7 linked regions of the Homo sapiens genome follow. The protein of the gene in region 1 interacts with the protein of each later gene in a pairwise test. Each region holds a gene or a part of one and is shown in the gene's direction. Other genes may lie near its edges. The genes, in order: DDX39B, PIAS2, SDCBP, RNF4, FYTTD1, U2AF2 and ZHX1.

What was found.
Region 2: the proteins of DDX39B (region 1) and PIAS2 interact in a two-hybrid assay, tested with the Homo sapiens proteins (one large-scale study listed by IntAct).
Region 3: the proteins of DDX39B (region 1) and SDCBP interact in binary tests that used the Homo sapiens proteins (3 or more experiments, as listed by UniProt).
Region 4: the proteins of DDX39B (region 1) and RNF4 interact in binary tests that used the Homo sapiens proteins (3 or more experiments, as listed by UniProt).
Region 5: the proteins of DDX39B (region 1) and FYTTD1 interact in binary tests that used the Homo sapiens proteins (3 or more experiments, as listed by UniProt).
Region 6: the proteins of DDX39B (region 1) and U2AF2 interact in binary tests that used the Homo sapiens proteins (3 or more experiments, as listed by UniProt).
Region 7: the proteins of DDX39B (region 1) and ZHX1 interact in a two-hybrid assay, tested with the Homo sapiens proteins (one large-scale study listed by IntAct).

The regions. Positions count from the first base shown.
Region 1 is NC_000006.12:31,535,504-31,539,003, reverse strand, and holds part of DDX39B (spliceosome RNA helicase DDX39B), read left to right. Parts: intron 1-148; coding exon 149-241; intron 242-2,320; coding exon 2,321-2,504; intron 2,505-2,554; exon of another isoform or gene 2,555-2,630; intron 2,631-3,500. UniProt on the Homo sapiens protein: Involved in nuclear export of spliced and unspliced mRNA. Component of the TREX complex which is thought to couple mRNA transcription, processing and nuclear export, and specifically associates with spliced mRNA and not with unspliced pre-mRNA.
Region 2 is NC_000018.10:46,827,008-46,830,507, reverse strand, and holds part of PIAS2 (E3 SUMO-protein ligase PIAS2), read left to right. Parts: intron 1-640; coding exon 641-774; intron 775-2,377; coding exon 2,378-2,549; coding exon of another isoform or gene 2,550-2,565; exon of another isoform or gene 2,566-3,500. UniProt on the Homo sapiens protein: Functions as an E3-type small ubiquitin-like modifier (SUMO) ligase, stabilizing the interaction between UBE2I and the substrate, and as a SUMO-tethering factor.
Region 3 is NC_000008.11:58,577,261-58,580,309, forward strand, and holds part of SDCBP (syntenin-1), read left to right. Parts: intron 1-772; coding exon 773-948; intron 949-2,362; coding exon 2,363-2,534; intron 2,535-3,049. UniProt on the Homo sapiens protein: Multifunctional adapter protein involved in diverse array of functions including trafficking of transmembrane proteins, neuro and immunomodulation, exosome biogenesis, and tumorigenesis.
Region 4 is NC_000004.12:2,496,606-2,500,105, forward strand, and holds part of RNF4 (E3 ubiquitin-protein ligase RNF4), read left to right. Parts: intron 1-401; coding exon 402-516; intron 517-3,500. UniProt on the Homo sapiens protein: E3 ubiquitin-protein ligase which binds polysumoylated chains covalently attached to proteins and mediates 'Lys-6'-, 'Lys-11'-, 'Lys-48'- and 'Lys-63'-linked polyubiquitination of those substrates and their subsequent targeting to the proteasome for degradation.
Region 5 is NC_000003.12:197,748,513-197,752,682, forward strand, and holds the start of FYTTD1 (UAP56-interacting factor), read left to right. Parts: upstream 1-1,370; 5' UTR 1,371-1,459; coding exon 1,460-1,562; intron 1,563-1,734; exon of another isoform or gene 1,735-2,310; intron 2,311-4,170. UniProt on the Homo sapiens protein: Required for mRNA export from the nucleus to the cytoplasm. Acts as an adapter that uses the DDX39B/UAP56-NFX1 pathway to ensure efficient mRNA export and delivering to the nuclear pore.
Region 6 is NC_000019.10:55,661,535-55,665,034, forward strand, and holds part of U2AF2 (splicing factor U2AF 65 kDa subunit), read left to right. Parts: intron 1-236; exon of another isoform or gene 237-296; intron 297-967; coding exon 968-1,084; intron 1,085-2,071; coding exon 2,072-2,210; intron 2,211-3,500. UniProt on the Homo sapiens protein: Plays a role in pre-mRNA splicing and 3'-end processing. By recruiting PRPF19 and the PRP19C/Prp19 complex/NTC/Nineteen complex to the RNA polymerase II C-terminal domain (CTD), and thereby pre-mRNA, may couple transcription to splicing.
Region 7 is NC_000008.11:123,267,787-123,271,286, reverse strand, and holds part of ZHX1 (zinc fingers and homeoboxes protein 1), read left to right. Parts: intron 1-3,500. UniProt on the Homo sapiens protein: Acts as a transcriptional repressor. Increases DNMT3B-mediated repressive transcriptional activity when DNMT3B is tethered to DNA. May link molecule between DNMT3B and other co-repressor proteins.

The DNA.
Region 1 (3,500 bases):
TCTGTCGCAAGCGTGGGGTTCATGATTTAGATCACATAATTGAAGTCATTTATTATCGGCCCAGGTGTGTTTTTGTGACAGTCACTTCCCTAGAGGGGATAATGAAGAGCTACATTTACCATATGTCTCCGTCTACTTCCTGCCTAAGGTGTCTGTACTGGTGATGTGTCACACTCGGGAGTTGGCTTTTCAGATCAGCAAGGAATATGAGCGCTTCTCTAAATACATGCCCAATGTCAAGGTAAGCCAAGGTAAAGAGACCTGAGAGTGAGGGTGTGGCAAGTTGGAGGGATAAGAAACTTGTAGGCCAATAGTCTCTTTAATTTTGGAGAAGCTTTAGTTTGCTGTGGTGTAACAGAGTGTTGAGTTCCTATGTAACAGGAGGATTCGTAATTGGGCTATGGATGATGCTTAACACAAGACCACCCTTTTCTTACTACTTTATACTGACTTTGAATCATATCAGTTTAATAATTTTGGGGTATGTGGCAGAGAAAGCCGGAAACTTTAAAACAGCTCCAGTGGTGTGTGAATATTGAGGATTCTGGCCAAGTGCACAATGGCTTACACCTGTAATCTCAGCAGTTTGGGAGGCCAAGGCGTGTGGATTATTTGAGGTCAGGAGTTTAAGACCAATGTGGCCAACAGGATGAAACCCTCTCTCTACTAAAAATGCAAAAATTAGCCGTGCATGGTGGCACACACCTATAGTCCCACCTGCTTGGGAGGCTGAGGCAGGGGAATCGCTTGAACCCAGGAAGCAGAGGTTGTAGTGAGCTGGGATTGTGCCATTACACTCCAGCCTGGGTGGCAGAGTGAGACTCCCATCTCAAAAAAAAAGAAAAAATCTGATTGAAGTTAAGCATTTTTGGCAAGAATCCTTCATAGGTGATACTGTATCTCCTGTTATGCCACAAATCTGGTCGACTTATGTTAGTTATTTTATTTTATTTTTATTTATTTGTTTTGAGATGGAGTCTCGCTGTGTCCCTCAGGCTGTGAGTGTAGTGGCGCGATCTCAGCTCACTGCAACCTGCGCCTCCCACGTTCAAGCGATTCTCCCGCCTCAACCCCCCGAGTAGCTGGGACTACAGTGTGCCATCATGCCTGGCTAATTTTTGTTTTTTTTTAGTAGTGACAGGGTTTCGCCATGTTGGCCAGGCTGGTCTCGAACTCCTGACCTCAAGTGATCCACCCACCTCGGCCTCCCAAAGTGCTGGGATTACAGGAGTGAGCCACTGCACCTGGCCTCATTAATGATTTTAGATTTACCATAGGATTAGCGTCGTGACAGTCTGATTCCACAGTTGTTCTTTTCCCCCTTGAAACCAGAAAGTAGTTTCTGGTGTTATTTGATACTGTACCAAGGCCCAGATCCCCAAACAACTATTCACCTAATGGTTTTAACATGAAATGATAATATTTAGCCCGAAGCAGTAATTTCATGGGGTTTGTGTGAAAAGAGTTTGAGATTCTGGGTTTATTTAGGAAACCTTAATGTTCCATGTGTTTTTTGTGGTACTTTACACTAATCTGGTGATTTCTTGCTGTCCTTTATTTATTTATTTTTTATTTTTTGAGATGGAGTCTCGCTCTGTCATCCAGGCTGGAGTACAGTGGCTCAATCTCGCCTCACTGCAATCTCCACCTCCCGGGTTCAAGCGATTCTCCTGCCTCAGCCTCCCGGCTAAATTTTGTATTTTTTGTTTTTTAGTAGTAAATTTGTAAATTTTGTATTTTAGTAGAGATGGGGTTTCACCGTGTTGGCCAGGCTGGTCTTGAACTCCTGGCTTCAAGTGATCCACTTTCCTTGACCTCCCAAACTGCTGGGATTACAGGCGTGAGCCACTGGGCCTGGCTTTATTTTATTTTTATTTATTTTATTTCTTTTTGAGATGGAGTATCACTCTTGTTGCCCAGGCTGGAGTACAACGGTGGGATCTTGGCTCACCACAACCTCTGCCTCCCAGGTTCTCGTGCCTCAGCCTCCTGAGTAGCTGGAATTATAGGCGTGTGCCACCACACCTGGCTCCTTTATTTTTTAAATGAAGCCTGGCCTCATAAATGAAGGAAGTTGGTTAGATTAAGTCAGTAGAACTGAATTATTGTCCTGACTGCTCCGACTAGCCATGTAACTTTAGGCAATCACCCTCAGTGTTTGGTGGGGGGGACATAAAATTTTTAAATTAGGTGCCCTCTAAAGTTAGTTTTAGTTTGGAAACATGCTAAAAATTGGTTTAGCTCAAACAGAGTGGGAACCCTGGGGGGATTGGACTCTTTCCTTCCTCTGTTTTGAGACTCTTTGCTTCTGGCTCGGCAGGTTGCTGTTTTTTTTGGTGGTCTGTCTATCAAGAAGGATGAAGAGGTGCTGAAGAAGAACTGCCCGCATATCGTCGTGGGGACTCCAGGCCGTATCCTAGCCCTGGCTCGAAATAAGAGCCTCAACCTCAAACACATTAAACACTTTATTTTGGATGAATGTGATAAGATGCTTGAACAGCTCGGTGAGTGGCAGTGCTGGGGCTTGGCTAATGCTGGGGAGTTGTTCTTTGGAGCCAAATGATGTTTATTTGAAACAGGAGCACCTCAGTGCAAGGACGACTCTTATCTATCACCCATGACTGATGGCTCTGGGTTCCCTGGTTGGTCTTTATTATGCTTTTAAGCACAGTAAAGGGTGTCATCTATCATCTTTCTATGATTTTTGTTTTTAACCTTTGAGAATAGGGGACTTTGATAATTTTAGGCATAAGTCATCACCACCACCACCGTTTTCATTATAGATTCATATACTGGGAGTCATAGCGGAGATTCTAAACTGAAAGAGAAGACAGTACCCTTCTGGCATCTCCAGCACAGCATTTACAGTCAGAATTTATAGCTGAATAAGTGTCTAGACTCAGGTCTGGGATTAATGTAGAGAGTGTTTGTAGCAGTTTGTGTGATGTGGTATTCTAGTGTGCCAGGTGGGGTTAATGGAAGATTTTTCTGTAAGAATTGAATCTTGGTGAATGAGAGTGGGGTTGGACATAGGCCCCATAAGTCATTACAAATGATCTTTGGCAATTCTATATGGTGAGCTATAAAGGTGGGCTCCAGGTAGGGATGTCATATTTGCCTGACTTGATAGAAAAGTAATCCAGAGAGTCATAGATGGACTCTGATATCTGGAATATAATATGTGCTTGATATTTGTAGTCTGCTGAAGGCTGGCTGGGGCTTGGGCAGGAAAGGGTTGGGAGAAGGTCCCATAAAGCATGTTTTGAAGGCCTTGAGAGCCTCTGCACTGGGCTTTATCCCCATTTCATAGTTGGGAACTTTGGGGTTTTACCTTATTTCTTGCTTGGTTAAAACAAACAGCTGGAATCTGATCCCACTTCTTGATTCCAAGTCCATTGCTCTTTCCATTGTGTTGTTACTATTTCCAGCAATCTTCACCTCACTGGGAAGTCTACCTCTAATCTTTGTTTATCATACCTGCTTATTTTCTCCTACAATTT
Region 2 (3,500 bases), on another chromosome or scaffold:
TAAATTTTCCTTTAAATACTACTTCAGTGTTTAAATAATACAGTCCACAAATTTTATTACATTTTTATTTTCATTCAGTTTAAAATCTTATTTTTATCTTTGACTCATGTTTCTTTTGTTTAGTTTCCAAGTTTTCAGGTTTTTCTGGTACGGACTTAATTTGAACTTAATTCAAATACACTTATTTTAAATTTATTGAGACTTCTTTTATTTCCCTTTTCTTCCCTCCTTCCCCTACCCCATTATCCTTTTTTCTCGAAGTTAAAGTTTATAAATTATTTTACTATATAGTAACCTTTATCTGCTGATGTTTGTTTTTTGTGCTGTGTTAGAGGTTGTTCTTACTGCCAGCCTCAGCTAGGAGGCTCCAGGTATCTACTTCTCTCTAGCCATTTATACTCATTGAGTTACACAGGTGATGCTCAGTAAGTTACTTAACTATTATGTTGCCTGTTACAGATTTAAAACATAGGACAAAGGGAGTGTAATAATTGTTGTAAAGTATAAAGTATTGCAATACCAAAAGAAAAGGGGGTCAGCTAACATTACTTATGTTTTCAAGGTAATGTGTATTACTTTCTTATTTCACCTTTAGGCAAAGCTGTTGATCACATGTATGTACTTCTTAATTGTTTTTTAGGCTTTTTATGGAAATTCTCAATGACTGTTCTGATGTAGATGAGATCAAATTCCAAGAAGATGGTTCTTGGTGTCCAATGAGACCGAAGAAAGAAGCTATGAAAGTATCCAGCCAACCGTGTACAAAAATAGAAAGTATGTGTAGAATAGCAGCAGAGAGTAAAGCAGTGAGACTCGTGCAACATTATCATTAATCTTGGCCCCTAGAACTATACGTTTGGAATTCAGCTTGTTGACTCAGTCTTTTGATGATATATAGTTTTCCCCCAAATGATTTTTATTCTTTCCTGAAGGAATGTGCTAAAGTTTATACCATCTTATCAGCTATTTCATAGTATATTTTTCCTGTGTAGAATAAAGGAAACATTCATCTAAAATCATTTTAAAATATGATGTTTGTTACAAAACAAAAAGTCACAAATGAATTTATATGGACAGTTTTTCAGAATTGTTCTTAGAGTATCTGTAGGTGGAACCCTAGGTGGAGGTGAGGTTAGAGAGGCTGCATCATTGGTTAATGGCCTTGGTGGTTTGGGGATGGTCACAGGTTAGTTGCTCAGAAAGTAAACAAATTGTTACCTTCCATTTCTTTGTGGAGAAGAATTTTAACATTGCCTTGATTACCTAGAATGTATACTCATCCATCAACTGCCTGCATCCATCCACACTAAGTAGGGAAACTGAGGGCATTTGGAGTAATTGAAACGCACAGGTGAACTTAGAGTTTCTTTTTATCTAACAGTCTCATTGAAACCCACACGTGAACTTAGAGTTTCTTTTTATCTAACAGTCTACTCACTGCATTTCAGTTTTGTTCTGATTACATTTGAAGTTCTAACAAACAATGTAATGAATGGAGTAAGAAGAAAGGGGAAAAAATAAAGGATTTATGCCATTATTAATTATTCCTCTGCGATTGACACTAAACCTGAGTGCAGTGACCAAGGTTTCTCTCATCTTTCAGAAAAATGGGGAGTGATTTAGTTGATAAGTTTCTGTTGCTTTTCCATTATCAACTGTCATTCATTTTTAACTAAATACATTACAGATAATAACATACTTTTCTGTGAAAATGTGAGTTAACAAATATGGTATGTGAGACTGTCTTTGTGGGTAGAAAGAACCTACGTGATTAGCAGATAATTCATAAGAAAAGTTTAAATGTCTTAGTAACTTAATTGAGAGGTTTGGGTTTTTTTCAACTTATCAAGATGAAAGTTTTTATCAAGTTCTGGCTTATGGTGAAAAGTCTGTACTTTCTTTGATATAAGCATAATTGCTAGAATGGAAATATCTGGTTCTGAGCTAACTGTGCCACATGTGTGCGAGAATACATAGCTGTTGAACTCACCCATTCTTGTCCCATGACCTGAGACCAGTTCCCTAACTCTGCGTGTCTTTCTGTAAAACGACTGCTGACCTGCAGAGACAGGATGAGCAGTAGGAGCTGCACAAATCCTTCAGTGGTATTGGAGGCATAACTAAGAACATTCTGTCTGAATGAGACTTCTAACCATCTGTCAAGGAATAGTGCTCACCTGTCTCCCTAGGTGAACAACCATTTTACAGACAGAGGTCTGGAGTTAGGGAGTTGGTATTTGTCCATGGGTTGGAGTATGTGGCTTCACTGGCTATATGTTGTCAGGAACATACTATACTGAATATACTAGACTCTACCACTAGAGTTTATTTGTGTTATACCTTTAATTTTTTTTTCCTTTTGTTTCTTTACATGCAGGTTCAAGCGTCCTCAGTAAGCCTTGTTCAGTGACTGTAGCCAGTGAGGCAAGCAAGAAGAAAGTAGATGTTATTGATCTTACAATAGAAAGCTCTTCTGACGAAGAGGAAGACCCTCCTGCCAAAAGGAAATGCATCTTTATGTCAGAAACACAAAGCAGCCCAACCAAAGGGTTTGTTAATTTATAGTTCACTATTGTTCATTACCCTTGCAACTAATTGCTCTTGGATAGATTTATAAATGTCTCTTTGGGAAATGGCATAACTGTAGAAGGCTATTTTAATTTGCCTTTGTTGAGTTGAAATATTTTCGAGTAAGCACATTGTTTATAGGAAGCAAATTTTGATGGAGAAAATATTTACATCTTTGGAAAGTGAGCGTGTGAGGTATTTATTTCCTACCTGAGACTTTTTGTTATTTTCTTGAACCTGTTTGTAAGGAAATTTGGCATCTCAGACCAGATGAGAAAGTCTGGTGTAATGGAGTGTGGAACTGGGAATCTGACAAGTATGGATTCCAATTTTGGCACACCATCGCTTACTTGTTCTGTGATCTTAGATGAAATACTTAATTTGATTGAGCCTCTTTTTTGTGTTCTGTTAAATGGAGCTAAATAACGCCTATATTACAGGATCATTTTCAGGTTTTAATGAGATGAAAGAAAGCCTCGGTGTCAGGCATGTGGTAATTTCCCAATAAAAATTGATTCCTTTCCCTTTTCACCCTCTCCAGGGCAAAATATAGGTGGGTAGGATGGCATTCTACCTGAATTTTAGCGTGGATTCTCTGTAAGTTATCTGGCAGAAGGCATTACTGACCTGCATTAAAAATCAGGTTTGGGTATTTAACAATAGTTGCTTTTTCAGAGAGGTTTTGAACCATAAAAGGAGATAACAGGAGAGTTCTCCTGGCTGTCTACGAACACATTCTTTCAAACTTGGGTTTGCTAGTGTCATCTTTTTGGCCTCTTGGTCCACTTGGTTTTCTAATGGCTTTACTGAGTTATAATTTACATAGCATAAAATGTACCCATCTTAAGTATATAATGGCACAATTCAGTGATTTTAGTAAATACATAGAGCTGTGCAATCATCACCATGATTCAGTAGTAGAATATTTTCAA
Region 3 (3,049 bases), on another chromosome or scaffold:
GCTTAGGATTGTAGAAGTAGATGCACTTATATTTTACCAGGCTTATTCTTCTTTTATACTTACCTATTTATATTTTGTTCAACTTCTGATTGAGATTTTACATAAGTAAAAATATCCATGTGAGTGTAGTTATTGGTTAACAGTATTTGAGTTTTCTGTATTTATTTCATTGTGTGTTCTTTATAAGCCTGTGCATGTGGATTTAATATGCCCATCTTTTTAGTCTAACAAATAAACTTTAATCTTACTTGATTATACACAATTTAGCAAATGGGTAAAGGAATGCTTCAGCTCAAAAGGTAGAATTATGACCTTAAACTGTCATTTATTAAGCTGTAAAAGAACTCATCAAACTTTCTAACATGTGACTCGCTTTTCCCCTAAATATGATTATGTACTGATAATTTGGTATTCTATCAGACTCAGACGCTTGCATTTATTAAAGTTGTCCTACTGTATTTTCCTTAGTTTTGTATTCCAAGTTGAAGGGGGGGATTGTGGTTGGTCAGGTGGGTCATGATTTGGTATAGAAATTGCCATTGAAATCTCACTTTTTTGCCTTATTCTTTGGAGTTGCTGTCTTGATAAATTTTTCAGTTTCTTTTGAGGTGATAACTTAATATACTCATATAGTTTTTCCTTTTTTTCTTTTTCTTTCTTTTTTGTCACTGGGGTAGAGTTTTCAACATAAACAGTTGTTTCCTAATTTTCCAGCGTTTAAAACCGTATCATAGTAGTGGTAAATGACAAAAATTATTTTCTTATTATCTAGGGTATATTTGTTCAGCTAGTCCAGGCTAATTCTCCAGCCTCATTGGTTGGTCTGAGATTTGGGGACCAAGTACTTCAGATCAATGGTGAAAACTGTGCAGGATGGAGCTCTGATAAAGCGCACAAGGTGCTCAAACAGGCTTTTGGAGAGAAGATTACCATGACCATTCGTGACAGGTAAGCTGTTACTAAACAGCTCAAATGAAAATTCAATACTAGTTTTCCATTTTTTTGGGCTTTCAGAGTTTGTGAGTATATTATTTTGTTGCAGAAAATGATCAAATGTTATTGATGAGCCTTATAGTCTTGCAGTTGTGTGGTGCAGATTTTTCTTACATTGTTTTTAAAGCATTCTGATACGATACCTTATTTCAGAGTTTATAGGACAAATCTCTCTAGAAAATAGAAAACGTATGTTGGAGAAGTAACTGAGTTGCAGGGCATCTCTGGGCTCACTTTCCAACTTACTGCTTAGATACATCCAGCCTAGGGTGTTCACACACAGTGGTCCCTCATTGTGAGGGTCAGAGCCCATGCAGACTTCCAAGTAGTATGGGAGTTCTGAAAACCGTATCAAGACTTTTGGGTAGTTATGAAGCAGTAGTTTTCAAGAACATGGAATATTCTATTTAGCAGCTCATTCATTTAGAACTTAAACATTTAGCACATGAAATAGGGGCCTCCATTTATTTTCTTGTCTACTCCATACCCAATTAAGGGTAGACGTATATTGCATTGTTACAGTAAGCTTTGAGTTTTTGTTCCTTCTCAGTGAAACTTCTGTTTTATCTTTGTGTTTCCAGTTTCTCATTCAGTTTAGGTATTTCGTAAATGTTTCAGATGAATGTCCTTTTTACTTTCTATCTAAGCAGAGTTTCAAAGAGTAAGTTGTACTAACAGGAAGAAATGCCTCTTCTGAATTTAATAATGTAAACACAAGTTGATCCTAAAACCCTTATGATAACATGATAACAGAGTTTATAGAGAATCAAGCAAATGTGACTGCTATAACAACTCTAGAGGGACAGCTGGATGCCTTTTAATAATAGCTGCATGCCTCCCTTTCCAAAGGGGCTTGAGGAACTTAAGTCTTACTGCTGCTCTAGTTTTTCTTTTCAAAGATAGCAATGTATAAAATTTTCAAAATCAAGATGTGAGAAATATTTTAAAGGTTTTAAATAAAAGAAATAGTCCTAAAAATGATTTGGCTCTAGAAAATACCAAAAGTTAATAAAAAATAAAAATTATCTTTACCACTGTGATTTAGTTAAAAAGCCTATGTCATTCTTAATGCTGTAAAGTCTAATTATAAAAGAAAAACATATTGATAAAACCATATAAAGCAGTTGTCTTTTATACTTAAAGAAGGAAATGTTGATTAGTAAATCAGTCAAACCATAATGAATAAACTTAAAAAAAACTTTTACACAAAGATGTTCCGTGAATGTATAAAATCAGAGCCATAAGTTGCTCTTATTAGAAACAGTGTTTATTATAAAAGTATCCAATATGGCAACATTTATGCTATATGAAATCCATTAAAATGTTTAGCTTAGAATTAAGTTTTTAATTGAACCAATTATGTTTGTAGGCCCTTTGAACGGACGATTACCATGCATAAGGATAGCACTGGACATGTTGGTTTTATCTTTAAAAATGGAAAAATAACATCCATAGTGAAAGATAGCTCTGCAGCCAGAAATGGTCTTCTCACGGAACATAACATCTGTGAAATCAATGGACAGAATGTCATTGGATTGAAGGTAAGGAACAGACTTTGTGCCATGTTCTGCTGCAGTTTTAGAAAATGTCTGTCTTTTGACTGTATTTAGGTGGCGCTGTTTTCATATTGACTTAGGTGGGAGATGGGGAACGTGGGGCCTGAACTCTTGGTCTGGCCAGTCACCGGAATTATTTGGGCTGTCATCTAGAACTACAGTTCCTATAACAAGTGGGCTGGAATAAATGATCTCAGAAGTACCTCACACTAGAATTCTGTGGAAATATGGGCAACAAAGATTTAGAATATGAATAGTGGCCCAGCATTTCTCAATCCAGGAATATAAGGAAATGAATAATAGTTTTGGTTCATATTAATACTTTATTTTTATAGTTTTTCTCCTCCACAAATTCCTAAATAAGTCTGTCTTAAGGTCAAAAAGTTTTAAGCATGACCTCCTCATTTCATAGAATTTGATTTAGAATACACAGTTAATAAGAGGAGATGGTAATATTGTATATGGGGAAAATTATCTAATATTCAGAAAGGAAAAGTTTT
Region 4 (3,500 bases), on another chromosome or scaffold:
GCCTGCCACCACGCCCAGCTAACTTTTGTATTTTCAGTAGTGATGAGGCTTCACCATGTTGGCCAGGCTGACCTTGAACTCCTCACCTCATGATTCGCCCACCTCAGCCTCCGAAAGTGCTGGGATTACAGGTGTGAGCCACCATGCCCAGCCGACCTGCTGATAGTTTGATAAAACAGAAGTTTTACTTTCTGGAATTTCTACTCATTTTATGTTTTGGATGGTTTCTCTCTCCGTAAGCATTCAGTATTCTTGAATCTCAAGTTTTGAAAGGAGCCCTAACTTCAAGTCTACTCGCTGGCTTCTTAATGAAGTGAACCATTTCTATTGCCCATTTAGTTCTTCCTGAAACCCTGACATTCTGGTGTTCATGTGACTCTTCTTTCCCCCTTGCTACTCAGAGAAAGCGTCGTGGTGGAGCAATAAATTCTAGACAAGCTCAGAAGCGAACTCGGGAAGCAACCTCCACCCCCGAGATCTCCTTGGAAGCAGAACCCATAGAACTCGTGGAAACTGGTAAGATTGCCAGGGACACTACAACTGTGGGGTGTTAAAGTGGAGAGAGAACACTGTACCAGGGTGAGCTAGTAGAAGGTGCTTTCAGTGTCTTTAGAAGGCCTATGCAGTCTCACACTCACCATGTACAACTCAAAGCTTCACAGATTCTGAAATAGCTTCTCAACTGGGCTAACTGTTCAACTCTGGTAATGTGCAGCAGTGGGGTAGGATCCATTTAAAAAAAAATCTAGCGCAAATGAGATAGCCCACCTTTTCTATCTGAAACTGCATCCCCAATTGCTGGACCTTGTAAAGTACTTCGCTTTCCTCTTCTGTTTTTCATTAGGACATGAAATCACCCAAGAAGGCAAACTTGTCCACAGAGCTCCCTGTGTTGGAGCTTGGTATAGGCAGAGGCCAGATTGGATTTCCCCTTCTGCCTGCTCAAGAAGTGGTTGATGGCTGGCCTAAGTCCCTTTGCTCTGCATATATTGTTTTTATAACTAGGATACCTGCAAACTGGCATTTTATTTTTACTTATTTATTTTTGAGATAGAGTCTTGCTCTGTCGCCCAAGCTAGAGTGTAGTGGTGCAGTCTCGGCTCACTGCAAGCTCCACATCCTGGGTTCACGCCATTCTCCTGCCTCAGCCTCCCAAGTAGCTGGGACTATAGGCACCCGCCACCACACCCGGCTAATTTTTTGTATTTTTAATAGAGACAGGGTTTCACCATGTTAGCCAGGATGGTCTCGATCTCCTGACCTTGTGATCCACCCGTCTCGGCCTCCCAAAGTGCTGGTATTACAGGCGTGAGCCACTGCACCCGGCCATGCAAACTCGCGTTTTAAACAGAAGAAACTTAGTGCAAGATAAATTTCATGGGCCCCCCAGGAGAAATGAAGTTCTCTATATGGTCTCTGAGTTTCACTTCTACAAATGAGTTCTTGAAAGCCTTGACTTGAGGCTAGGATCCTGGCTCTAGACCAAAAAGGAACGAACTGCTTTCCGTCATGGCACTTGTCATCCTCTAGGCAGTCTTACCCCTGTGTGTACTTAGGGCTGCCCATTAGAGCACTGTTTTGTTTTTGTTTCTGTTTGAGGCAGAGTTTCGTTCTGTCAGCCAGGTTGGAGTGCAATCGCGTGATCTCGGCTCACTGCAACCTCTGCCTCCCAGGTTTAAGCAAGTCTCCTGCCTCAGCTTCCCAAGTAGCTGGGATCATAGGCGCCCACCACCACACCCGGCTAAATTTTTTTTGTATTTTTAGTAGAGACGGGGTTTCACCATGTCAGTCAGGCTGATCTCGAACTCCTGACCTCAGATTATCCACCTGCCTTGGCCTCCCAAAGTGCTGGGATTACAGGCCTGAGCCACCCGCCTGGCCTAGAGCACTGTTTTTGTAAGAGCCCAGAATTGTGTTCACCAGAAAGAGAATGGTTCAATAAATTGTTGTATATCAGTATATGGACTGTTGGACAGCCCTTCTTTTTAATAAAGAATGCAATAATTTTATATAAATTATATTGTATATGTAAGATTATCACGGTTTTTATTCTTGTGAAACTTTATGATACAAGAAAATAAAACAGGCCAGCCAGATTGCTTGAGCCCAGGAGTACCAGACCAGCCTGGACAACATAGTGAGACCCTGTCTCTATAAATAAAAAAATTAGCCAAGTGTGGGAGGCTGAGGTAGGAGGATCACTTGAGCCTGGAACATTGAGGCTGCAGTGAGCCGTGATCGTGCCACTGCACTCTAGCCTGGGCAACAGCAAGACCCCACCTAAAAAATAAATAAAAGAAGTTACGTTGGGTTGGGCGCCATGGCTGGCTCCTATAATCCCAGCACTTTGGGAGGCCGAGGCGTGCAGATCACCTGAGGTCAGGAGTTCAAGACCAGCCTGGCCAACATGGCGAAACCCCATCTCTACTAAAAATGCAAAAATTAGACGGGCGTGGTGGCGGGCGCCTGTAATCCCAGCTACTTGGGAGGTTGATGCAGGAGAATCACTTGCACCTGGGAGGCAGAGGTTGCAGTGAGCCGAGATCGTGCCACTGCACTCCTGCCTGGACGACAGAGCGAGACTCTGTCTCAAAAAAAAAAAGTTAAATGCATTACAAGACACTTTCCCCAAATATTAGACCAATACTGTTTCTTAAAAAACTTCATTTAGTGTTTTGTTGTTGTTGTTGTTTGTTTGTTTTTGAGATGGAGTTTTGCTCTTGTTGCCCAGGCTGGGGTGCAGTGGCGTGATCTTTGCATCCCGGGGTTCAAGCAATTCTCCTGCCTCAGCCTCCCGAGTAGCTGGGATTACAGGCATGTGCCACCACACCTCGCTAATTTTGTATTTTTAGTAGAAACGGAGTTTCTCCATGTTGGTCAGGCTGGTCTCGAACTCTCAACCTCAGGTGATCCGCCCACCTCAGCCTCCCAAAGTGCTGGGATTACAGGTGTGAACCACTGTGCCTGGCCCATTCCGTGCTTTTTAATATTAATATTAATAGTAATCAGAAATAAAAATGGTTGTGCGTCATTTTTTACTTTATATAAATGGAAGTTGTACGTTAACTGTTTGGTCCATGTCCTTCTCACCTTTATCCTGTGCACATGTAGACATCACAGTATACCCTAAGGGCTGAAAGGCAAGCTTCACAACAGATGCAACCCATTTTGTATGTTGAGGTTCTAGCTATCAGTATATATCACTGTTATTCTCCATCCAACTAGGGAGACAAACTTGAGAGATAAATGGAAATTAAAAGTTTGTCCTTGGCCGGGCACGGTGGCTCACGCCTGTAATCCCAACACTTTGGAAGACTGAAGTGGGTGGATCACAAGGTCAGGAGTTCAAGACCAGCCTGGCCAAGATGGTGAAACCCCATCTCTACTAAAAATACAAACAAAATTAGCCAGGCATGCTGCCAGGCGCCTGTAATCCCAACTACTCGGGAGGCTGAGACAGAGAATTGCTTGAACCCAGGAGGCGGAGGTTGCAGTGAGCC
Region 5 (4,170 bases), on another chromosome or scaffold:
AAAGCCTAACAAAAATCATACATTTCCCCAAGATAAGACTACTAGGCTTACAAAAAAGTCATGGTTCTTTGAGTTCAGCTGGAAACATAATCTGTGTGAAGACTCCTGGTTTTATCCATGCTACATATACAGGAAACGTTCACATTTACTTTTATTGTTAAGGTGACCGCAAAATTGTCACTGCAAGCTTTGCTTTAAATTCAGGCCTGGAAAGGGGAGCTGGAACAGCTGGCTTTAATTTTTAAGTGTGACATGCATAAGAAATATTTTAAAACATGGGATCCCCAAGCAAAAAATAGTAAATGTGTCATTGGTGTTGAAGTTGGAAGCCACATGACATTGTGACATGACTAAATTAAGCAAAGGCTACTGTGGTTTTGAGATGGCTGGTTTCCATGCTAAAGGAATTTTTGCATTTTATGAATTGGAGAGGAGAAAGGCGACAGAGATTTCTAGGTGGACAGAATGCATCTGGTATTGTCCTTAGATGTAAATATCCGAGATAGTTTTAAGCTGTATGAGGGTGATATAACCTAAACGCTTCCACATAAACGCAGTTACTTCAGGGAAGGAGAATGAGGTAAGAAGAGAGGTAAATACCGTATGTTGTAAACGGAAAAAAGTTATCATGCAGGAATTCATCAAATATTAAACTGTTTTCCCGTAGGGATGATTAAAAAGTAAACGAACCCTTCTATCCATTCCCAATGCAAATGAATTAGAAGAAAATGCAGCTACATCAACAGAGGTACTTACCCCTCCCGAGGGAAGCTGAGGTCTTATTAGGGTAGTGAACACCGTGCCAGATGTTTTGAGAGTGCCGATTGAGAGAAGGTACAGACACGGGAAACGTTAGCATTTACTTTGGAGTTAAGGTGACGCAGGAACCGTCACTGCAGCGTTTGCTTTGCGTTCAGATGCGGCAGCTCAGCGCAGCTGTAGGTGGAGGAGCGTGCCAGGGAGGGGGGAGCTGGGATGCAGCTGCAATCTACACTCGCAGGGGTCTGTCCTGCCTCCCGAGGCTGCGTTGCGGTGGGCGCGAAAGGCTCGTGTGTACCGAAGTATAGGGGACCTGTCTGCAGCAGGAGGGACTCGAAGGACACGGAGGATTATATCACTGAAGGCATAAGATTCAGAGGTGCCCGCGGTCTAGCATCCCCCAGTTTGGGCGGAAAGTCGAACTGCTCACAACGGCGGTCCTCGCGAGCGCCTAGCACAGCGGCTGCAATGCCTCGTCCGATCCTGCGAGGGCCGCTAGGAGCGAGTCACGGCGCGGGGCCGCTCTGGTCGCCCGCGAGTGTCGGTGGCCCCGCCCCGCCCGCAGCCGCGGGTGGAGACCGAGGACGGCGCCGGCGCGTGCGCGCTCCCTCGGTGCGGCGGGCTGCGTGCGCGAGTGGGAGGTGGCAGGCCTGCGACTCCGGCCTTGTCCGCGCCCGCTCTCGGCGCGACGTCTCCAGCCATGAACCGGTTTGGTACCCGGTTGGTGGGAGCCACGGCGACTTCTTCGCCGCCGCCGAAGGCCCGCAGCAATGAAAACCTCGACAAAATAGATATGTCTTTGGGTGAGGGGCCGAGTTGGACCGAGTTGGAGTGCGGGGGAGGGCGCGGGTGGAAGCCGGCGGCGCGGTTTGTGGGGGCAGGGGCGGTCGGCAGCAGTTGCCGGCGGAGTTTTCTCGCTGGTGGGCGGACCCGAGCGGAGGCCCGGAGGACAGCCGGGAGCGCAGGCTCGACGCCAGGTGCCCGGCTGGACCGCGAGGGACCCGGGCGTCCCCTCGGCCGCGGCAGTCGGAGGAGGGGCTGTGGAGGCGGGGGCAGGGGCGCTGCGGGCCCGAAGGTTCGCAGGGTCGCGGGGGGCGTCTCTTCTCCCCGGAGGGGCTACGGCTCGCCGCTCGCCGGCTCTTTGTGAGGAAAGATCTGCCGGTTTCCCCGGAGCGCGTTCGCGGTGGGCGTTATCGGGGAGCGAGGGGAATGGTCCGACCGAGCCGTTCTCTCTGAAGAAAGGTCTTGGAGAGCCCGGCCGGGGCTGCGGTCGGTTAAACCAGCGCTTCCGGAGCTTTCCCTGGTCGCCGGGCGTTCCAGGCCGGCGCCGGCCATGGCTGCCGGGCGCGACTCTCGGGGCCACCTCCGGCCGCGGCCCCGGAGCGTCTGTCAGAAAGGAAGCAGCGCTCGGCCGCCTGTGGGATGTGGTTGTGTATTGAGCGCTGCCTAGAAAAGCACAGTCTCCCTCTCCAGGCCTCAGAGCTAGCTAATGGGGGAGAAAGCAAACATCTTTGAAGGAGAGATGATTGCTGTGGCTCGCTGAGAAGCCAGGTAAAGCGTGGGGTTCTTGAGCGCATCTGAGAGGGTGGCGTGGTTTCTTGCCGATTATATAAAAACCGGGAGGTTGGTGATTCCATTAAAATCCAGCCCTGACACTACCGAGGCACCAGCCGCTGTGGTTAGCTTAGGTGGGCTAAAAGTACGAATATTTTTGTCGGGATTCAAGTGATGGCGTTGGGTGTAAGTCAGCTCTGCCAGGTGTTTGGCTGGCAGTTTTTCGGATATTTGAAAAGTACCTGACTAGTGGATTCCGAGGCGTACCCTTTCCCAGGACGGTCTTTAGAGTGATAACTGTCTTGGAAACCTTCTTTCGGTTTTCATTTCTTCCCATTTGTCTTGTGTGTCTTTTGTTGTGGTTTATCTGGAACGTTTTTGGTTCCAGGTGAGATGGGAACTATTGATTTCTACGATTGCCACAGTCAGAATCCAGTATGTGAACTAAGCAAATGATCAGAAATAATAGGTTTGGCCTCAAGTCTTGCCTTGCTGCTGGTTAGTAGTGAGCTTGTAAGAAATGAGAAAGCTGGGGCTGGGCGCGGTGGCTCACGCCTGCAATCCCAGCCCTTTGAAGGCGGAGGCGGAGGCAGGCAGATGGCTTGAGCCCAGGAGTTCGAGACCAGCCCGGGCAGCAAGGTGAAATCCCATGTCTACTAAAAATACTAAAATTAGCCGGGCGTGGTGGCCGCGCGCCTGTAATCCCAGCTAAGACATGAGAATAGCTGGAACCCGCGGGCGGATGTTGCAGTGAGCCGATTGCGCCACTGCACTCCAGCCTGGGCGGCAGAGCGAGACCCTGTCTCCCCCCGCTCTCCCCCCCCGCAAAAAAGAGAGAGAAACCTTTTGAGGTAAGGCCAACAAATAATGTAATAATGAATATTTATTGAGTGCTTACTACCTACCAGGTCCTGTACTAAGCATTTTATATGTTAACTCAGTTTATCCTCGTCATAACTCTGTGAGGATTCTAGCGATGGAGAGCACGGAACCCAGAACCACATTGTCTCAGTTCAGGTCCTGGACTAAGCATTAAATTAAATTAATTAATTAATTAATTATTTGAGACGGAGTCTGGCTCTGTCGCCCAGGTTGGAGTGCAGTGGTGTGATCTCGGGTCGCTGCAACCTCCGCCTCCCGGGTTCCAGCAGTTCTCCTGCCTCAGCCTCCCGAGTAGCTGTGATTACAGGCACACGCCAGCGCTGGTGGCCGGCTAATTTTCATATTTTTAGTAGAGACAGGGTTTCACCATGTTGGCCAGGCTGGTCTCGAACTCCTGACCTCAGGTGATCTGTCTGCCTTGGCCTCCCCTACAGGCGTGAGCCGCCGCACCCGGCCAGCATTTTATATATTAACTCAGTTTATCCTCATGATAAGTCTGTGAGGGTTGTACTCCTAGTGATTGACAGCATGGAATCCAGATCCACACTGTCTCCTTTCAGGTCCTGCCTCTGCCACTTTGTAACCATGTAACCGTGGGCAGATGATTTCCCAGTGCCTCATCTGTAGAAAGGTGACAGTAAGTAGTGTTTACCACATAGGGTTGCTGAAAACATTAAATGAGTCAGAAGGCATATGTGAACTGCTTAGAACAGGACCTGGTACACAGCACTGTATTTTTCCACATACACTATATATATGTGTGTATGTCTGTATGTATGCTTTTATTTTTATACATACACTATATGTAGTATGTCTGTATATATGCCTTTATTTTTATACATACACTGTATGTGTGTATGTATATATGGCTTTATTTTTCTACATACACTACATATATGTGTATGTATGTCTATGGCTTGGTTATTTTTATACATACACTATATATATGTGTATGTATATATGGCTTTGTTATTT
Region 6 (3,500 bases), on another chromosome or scaffold:
CACACACAGACGCACGCTGCCCCTCAGTTTTTTTCTGACACGCCTCTCGTTCTCTGCCGCCTGTCCCCTATCCTCTCCCCCACGTCCCTCCCATGGTCGCTGTTCTTTTATTTTTGATCGCCCCTGACCTCCCCCTTCCCCACCACTCCTTTTCCCTCTCCCCTCTCCCCAACCCCTTCCTGTGGCACCCCCTGAGAATCCCGAGATCAAAGAGTTGTTTCCATTTCTCTTTAAAGTGAAATATTGTGGGGCTGAGATCCCTCGTAGCAACAAAAAGTTTGCTACCATCGTCGAAGGCAAGTAAGGTCCATTCTGACTTTCTCAACCTGCACTTTGCTACATTTGATAAACCAGCCCCCGGACTCCAGGGCCAGATTCCTCCACATCACTCTTTTCTCCTCCCCTCCCGTCCCTGCCCCTCCTCCCTACACTCCTCCTCTCCTGCCCCTGCACTCTTGACTTCCTCCTCCTCGCTCGTCTCTGTCCTGCTCTCCCTTTCTGTCCTTTGCTCGTCTCTGCCCCTGCCTGCCACTTCCTTTCTACTTTCCTGCCACTTTTCTGTCTGTCTCCACTGGGTGGCCCTTCCTGTGTGCTCTGTCTCTTCATCTCTTGTGTTTCGTGTTTTTCTTCATTTTGTGTTGTCATCATGCCCTCTGCCTTTTCTTGAACAATCTTCTCCTTTCCCCTGATTTTTTGGGGCCCCTGTGGCTGTCCCCCAACGCCTGTCCATCGCCTGCCCTTGGCCGTCTCTTGCTACTGCTTCCTCCCCATTTTCTCTCTTGCTTCTGTTCTTACTATTGACTTCTACACCCCCACCCATATTCCACTGTTCCTTCCCCCCCTCCTCCCTCCCCTCATCCCTCTCCCCTTACCCCCAAACCCCTCTGTGTCTCCCTCTCTCACCCTTCCCCTCCTCTCTCCACCTCCCTTCCCCCGCCCCCCCCCTTGTCTCCTATTCCCTCTGCAGGAGGCCATGATGGATTTCTTCAACGCCCAGATGCGCCTGGGGGGGCTGACCCAGGCCCCTGGCAACCCAGTGTTGGCTGTGCAGATTAACCAGGACAAGAATTTTGCCTTTTTGGAGGTGAGCTGGGGGAGTGAGTGAGGTCCAGGAAACGTGTGTGATGTGAGGGCCCAGCCCTTAGGCTGATGTTGTGTGGAGCTGCCTTGTGCTGTTTCCACCAGGCCCTCTGCAGCCTCTTCTCCACCCGGTCGCTGAAGTGAGCCCTGTTATAGCATTACAGATCTGATCCTACTTTCTGCCTTCCATTTGCTTTCTGTGTGACCTGAGAGGCCTGTTTGGCCTCTGTAGACCTCTTTGGCCTTTTCCAGACCATTCCGGCCCAGTCCTCTCTGCACTCTGGCCACACTGACCTTCCCAGAACCTACCATGCTCCTGCCTGCTTGGCTAGAGTTCTTTACACCAGCTAACTGATGTTCCTAACTAGTCTTCTGTTACCCCAGCTAACTGATGTTCCTAACTAGTCTTCTGTGTCTGTGTTTCTCAACTGTCGGGAAAAGGCCTTGGTTTTTGATTTTCGACTCTTGGTGGACTGATAACTCTCATGAAGTATTGTGAAGGTGTGGGCAGTGTTAGCTTACTGCAGAGATTTCTGAGCACTCCCTCTCACTGTCTGAGCACTCCCTCTCACTCTGTCCCTCTCACTCTGTCTTTGCCTCACTGCAGTCCACTTGCAGTTGCATTGCTCCGGAGATGGGCTGAAATGTCCCCCTCACCAGAAAGACTCCAGTACTGTCATCTCCCCGTTCAACTAACCTTTCCCGTAACATCCCTTTTCAGCACTTTGTCCCTCTTCCGTGTCATCACAGCCTGCAATTGTGTGTTTGCCTCTGTGTTTGTGTTGGGTGCCTGGTGTTTTTAATGGTCGAGTGTGAGCTCCTGGCAGCAGGGACATGCGTGTCTGTTGTACTCCCAGTGCCCAGCCTGGGGCCTGGCATGTTGTATTTGTTCACATGAGTGAAAGGAAAGAGGAAATCCCAATCCTGGAACACTAGGGGCTGTACTAGTCCCTGACCCCCATCCCTCACCACTCCTTTCTCTTTCATTCAGTTCCGCTCAGTGGACGAGACTACCCAGGCTATGGCCTTTGATGGCATCATCTTCCAGGGCCAGTCACTAAAGATCCGCAGGCCTCACGACTACCAGCCGCTTCCTGGCATGTCAGAGAACCCCTCCGTCTATGTGCCTGGTGAGTGGGGGATCCATTAAGGGCCCCTTTCTCCCCCAGTCCTGTTCCCATGGCCTGTCCATCCCTTCAGCCCAGCTGGAGTGGCTTAGGAAGTTGTGTAAGTACTGTGGAAGATAGGTGCCTTTTCCCTGCTTCCCCTAAGTCTCTGTGAGTGGGGTGCTCTCCTGCTGGTAGAGAAGGTGCCTAGGGCCGGGAGAATGAGCTGTCACCTGCTGAGGACACACAGCTTGTACGTGGCAGAGCCAGGATCAGACCAAAGGTGCTGGGGAAGCGAGGGGCTTGTGGCCTGGACCTCGTGCCTGCGTTGCGGCTGTGGGACCTTGGAGGGCTCAGTCTGTGCCCGTCGGGGCTGCTGTGTGTCGACGGTTGGCAGCAAAGCTGCTGCTGTGGGGTCTGGCACCTGGGTATTCACTTGTTTTTGTCTCCTAGTGTTTGCCTTGAATCTTGTGTTCTGGGCCATTCCCCATAGCTGTGTTGAACATCATCTGTAATTGGTAGGTAACATAGCAGACCAGGGGTTGGCGACCATGTCACTGTGTGTGAAAGCAGCCGGACGGTGTCTGCGTGCGTGGGCCTGGCTGTGTGCCGGCACACCTCGACACGCGTGGCTGCTGAGGTTGGGCTTTCCTGTGCTTCTCACAGGCCACAGAATGGTCTCCCTTTAGAAAGCTTGCAGGATGTGCAAAACCAGGTGATGGGCCCTGTCAGCCCACAGGCTATAGTTGGCTGACCCTTGTAGCTGATGAATGGGATTTGAGGGAGGGCTTGTCTGATGCCCTGTCAGGGTGCGGCTGTGTCTCAGGCCTGGGACATGGAGGAGGTGGGGTTCTGCTGGCGGGTACTCACTGTTCGAGGAGCCCTTTAGGAACTGAGTCAGCTCTTCAGGGCAGGCGATGTGGAGCCCCAGACGGAGGCACATCTGTGTCAGGCAGGACTTGGGCTAGGTCCCTCACTGGCCTCCAGTGCTTTTCTTTTTGTTGTTGTTGTTGTTTTGAGACAGTCTCGCTCTGTCACCCAGGCTGGAATGCAGTGGCACGATCTCGGCTTACTGCATCCTCCGCCTCTAGGGTTCAAGCAATTCTCCTGCTTCAGCCTCCCGAGCAGCTGGGATTACAGGCACCTGCCACCATGTCTGGCTAATTTTTGTATTTTTAGTAGAGGGTGGGTTTCACCATGTTGGTCAGGTTGGTCTCCGACGCCTGACCTCAAGTGATCCGCTCACCTCAGTCTCCCAGAGTGTTGGGATTACAGGCATGAGCCACTGCGCTCAGCCCAGTGCTTTTCCATCAT
Region 7 (3,500 bases), on another chromosome or scaffold:
TAAATTTTTTGAACTTAAAATCCTTTTAAATAATCCTACGTAGTTTCAAAAGTAAGTTATAGTTCTGTTTTTAAAACTGATACTATCTTTAGAATAAGAGCCAATGTTTCTATACTATTATTGATAAATTTTATTGTATCCTTGTTGCTCTGATATATTTGTAGTCATCAATAACCAGATTTGCATGACTAAAGTTGCTGACTTAGATTATTAATCAGAATATACATTTGAGTTTACATTTTGGAGATCTGCATTTTATACAGGATATTCTTAAAGTAAATATTAATATGTAACTTTGTATGTAGTTGCCAGGTTTTGATCTTAAAAGATACTTAATCTTGGCATTTTATACAATCAGTTTCCAACTTAAGAGGTAAGACTGTATACCTTTGGTCTAAACAAATGTGATGATATACTTTGTAAAATAAGTATATATGAGCAGTTTAAGAATTATGTTTATTCAAGGGAGCCAGTTGAATACATTTTTTTTTTTTTTTTTTTGAGACGGGGTCTCATTCTGTGGCCCAGGCTGGAGTGCAGTGGCATGATCATGGCTCACTGCACCCTCAAACTCCTGTGCTCAAGCGATCCTTTCTCCTCAGCCTCTTGAGTAGCTAGGACTACAGTCATGTGTCACCCACGCCCGGCTAATTTTTAATTTTTTTTTTTGTAGAGATAGGGTCTTACTGTGTTGCCCTAGCTGGTCTCAAACTCCTGGCCTCAAGCAATCCTTCTGCCTTGGCCTCCCAACATGCTGGGATTACAGGTGTGAGCCACTGCACTCAGCCAAATAAATCATTTTTAATGCAAGATTTTAATTTTCAGTTCTTAGTTTTAGATTTTAAAAAATATTATCAGAATTTATCTTAACAAAATTAAAATATCGAAGTCATAGCCATATCATATATTATTGTAAATAAAATAACTCTTTCATTAAATTTTGGTGATTTCCTATTTCTCAAGATTTCTAACTTCCTTTTTCCCCTTCTTAAAAGTCTTTTCCTTTTTTGTTTTTTAGTGAGAAATGAAAGAAGATAGGAGGTTCTGATATTTCTAAGCACTAAACTAATAATTATATTTTTCTTCTAAGTTTATTCTCTTTTACCATCAATATTCTTAAAAAGAAGTTTGTTAAAATTTTGCTAGACATGGGCTATACTTGGGAGTGGGGAAGATCATGAGAACAATTTCTCCTCGTTACTATGATAAAATTACTTATATCAGATGTTTGCTAGTTCTATGAAATACCCCTTAAATATGTCATACAGTAATGATTTATTTTGAAGCTAAGGTCAGAAAAAGTTTGTGGGGGGAGAGGTTAAATTTGATTGATTAGTATCTGCCTTTTGAAGCCAACTTGTTCCAGCATGATTTAATATGCTCAGAGGTATGAAATGGCAAATAAATTTTGTTGGTTGGTTGTTACCCAGATTCTTAAAGTATTTTATCACTTGTCAACAGTTAGCAAATTTTAAAGAAAGATTTCTTTGCTAACATTCATTGTGTTCTAAGTACCAAGGAATATTCCAGAAACTTTACACGTGTTACCTATTCCAATCCTCACAACAACCCTATTAAGTAAATAGTATCCTATTAATATTACCAGTCCCATTTATAGATGATGGGGCTGAGGCACAGATAGGCTAAGCCATTTTTCTAAAGTCACACAGCTAGTAAGTGGCATGCTGTATTTGAACCCAGTCTGTTCCAAATTCCAAGCTCTCAGTCTTTTTTTGTAATCCATCTACTACCAGAACAGCTTGTTCTGTTTTATTATATAATGTACATAGCTGAGATGAGCTCTTTAATTTTTGGAATTCACTCATACTAAATTAAGAAAAATACTTTGAATTAGATAGAAATGTTCTAAAGTAATCCCAGTATCAGGAACTTAAATAACATCAGGCAACTAGGATTTTCATTCAAAAGCACTGATGAGCTCATTTTTGCTCCTCTGGTATCCTGGTGCCTTTACATGTCTTGGCAGCTCTTCTCAAGAGACTCATTCGGTAAAATATCTTGCAATTACTGTGTGATTTTAAGAATGGATTGAAGTAGGTTACCAGATTCCTAAAGTATTAATAATTCATTTTGGAAAATAACCTTCCCTCTTTGGCAGCTGTTTCCTATCTTCTCTTCTAGTCCACATCCTGTAGATTGATGGCTAACGAGTGGCGGAACAAGGAGATACCAGGAAATGAAACTGTAGAGTCCCAGGCTACAGAGATAATAAGATGCTCCACTGGGCCTACCAGGAAAATGCTCTTTTGCTTTTCATGAAAATAGTGTACTTATTCAGCCTAAGTTTTAACCTAACCTAGAGGTATTTTACTAAAGGACTGGTGTATTTACATTATTTCTTGATGTGAGAAGTTTCTTCATAAACTTGTATGTAATAGTAGCAGGAATAAAAAAATAAGGTTAATTGGGAAAATACTCTTCCTTAATATTTATTCATTATAGTTTACAGAGAATAGTGCTTAAAGAATACAACAAAAGGCCGGTTAGGGATCATGCCTGTAATCCCAGCACTTTGGGAGGCCAAGGCGGGCAGATCACTTGAGCTCAGGAGATAGAGACCATCCTGGCCAACATGGTGAAACCCTGTCTCTACTAAAAATACAAAAATTAGTTGGGTGTGGTGGCGTGTGCCTGTAATCCCAGCTACTCGGGAGGCTGAGGCAGGAGAATCGCTTGAACCAGGGAGTCGGAGATTGCAGTGATTCGATATTGCGCCACTGCACTCCAGCTGGGCGACACAGTGAGACTCCATCTCAAAAAAAAAAGAATACAACCAAAATGCTTTAACCCTTCAAAAGTGTTATTTATGACTGTTCTAGTAAGAAAAGCAATTGTAGCTTTATTAAACTTTTCTGATGGGTTTAACTGATCTAGATTATATACAACAACATATTTGGACAGTAATTGAATTTTCAGAGAATTATTTTCTGTTTATTTGATTGCATGATGTTAATACTTCACAGTGCACTGATTGTAAAGCCATTTGGTAGTAGCTTTCAGGCAAAAACGACATGGCTAAACACCAGTCATTTTGTTAGATAACCCCATGTTTGTAGATCAAGTACTACTAGTTTGTTTAACTTGTTTTGGCTTGTGTTGTCAGCATTAATAATCCTCTCCATTCTGATTAACATAATAAATTAGGATACAAATATCACTAGGTTTATGTACTAACACATAAACATATACAACTACTCCCATTTCTTAGTTTAACTAAATTGTCTTCATAACCTTTGTATACTTATTTATTTATTTATTTATTTAGAGTCAGAGTTTCGCTCTTGTTGCCCAGACTGGGGTGCAATGGCGCAATCTCGGCTCACTGCAACCTCTGCCTCCCCGGTTCAAGCGATTCTCCTGCCTCAGCTTCCCGAGTAGCTGGGATTACAGGCATGCGCCACCACGCCCAGCTAATTTTGTATTTTTAGTAGAGACGGGGTTTCTCCTTGTTGGTCAGACTGGTCTCAAACTCCCAACCT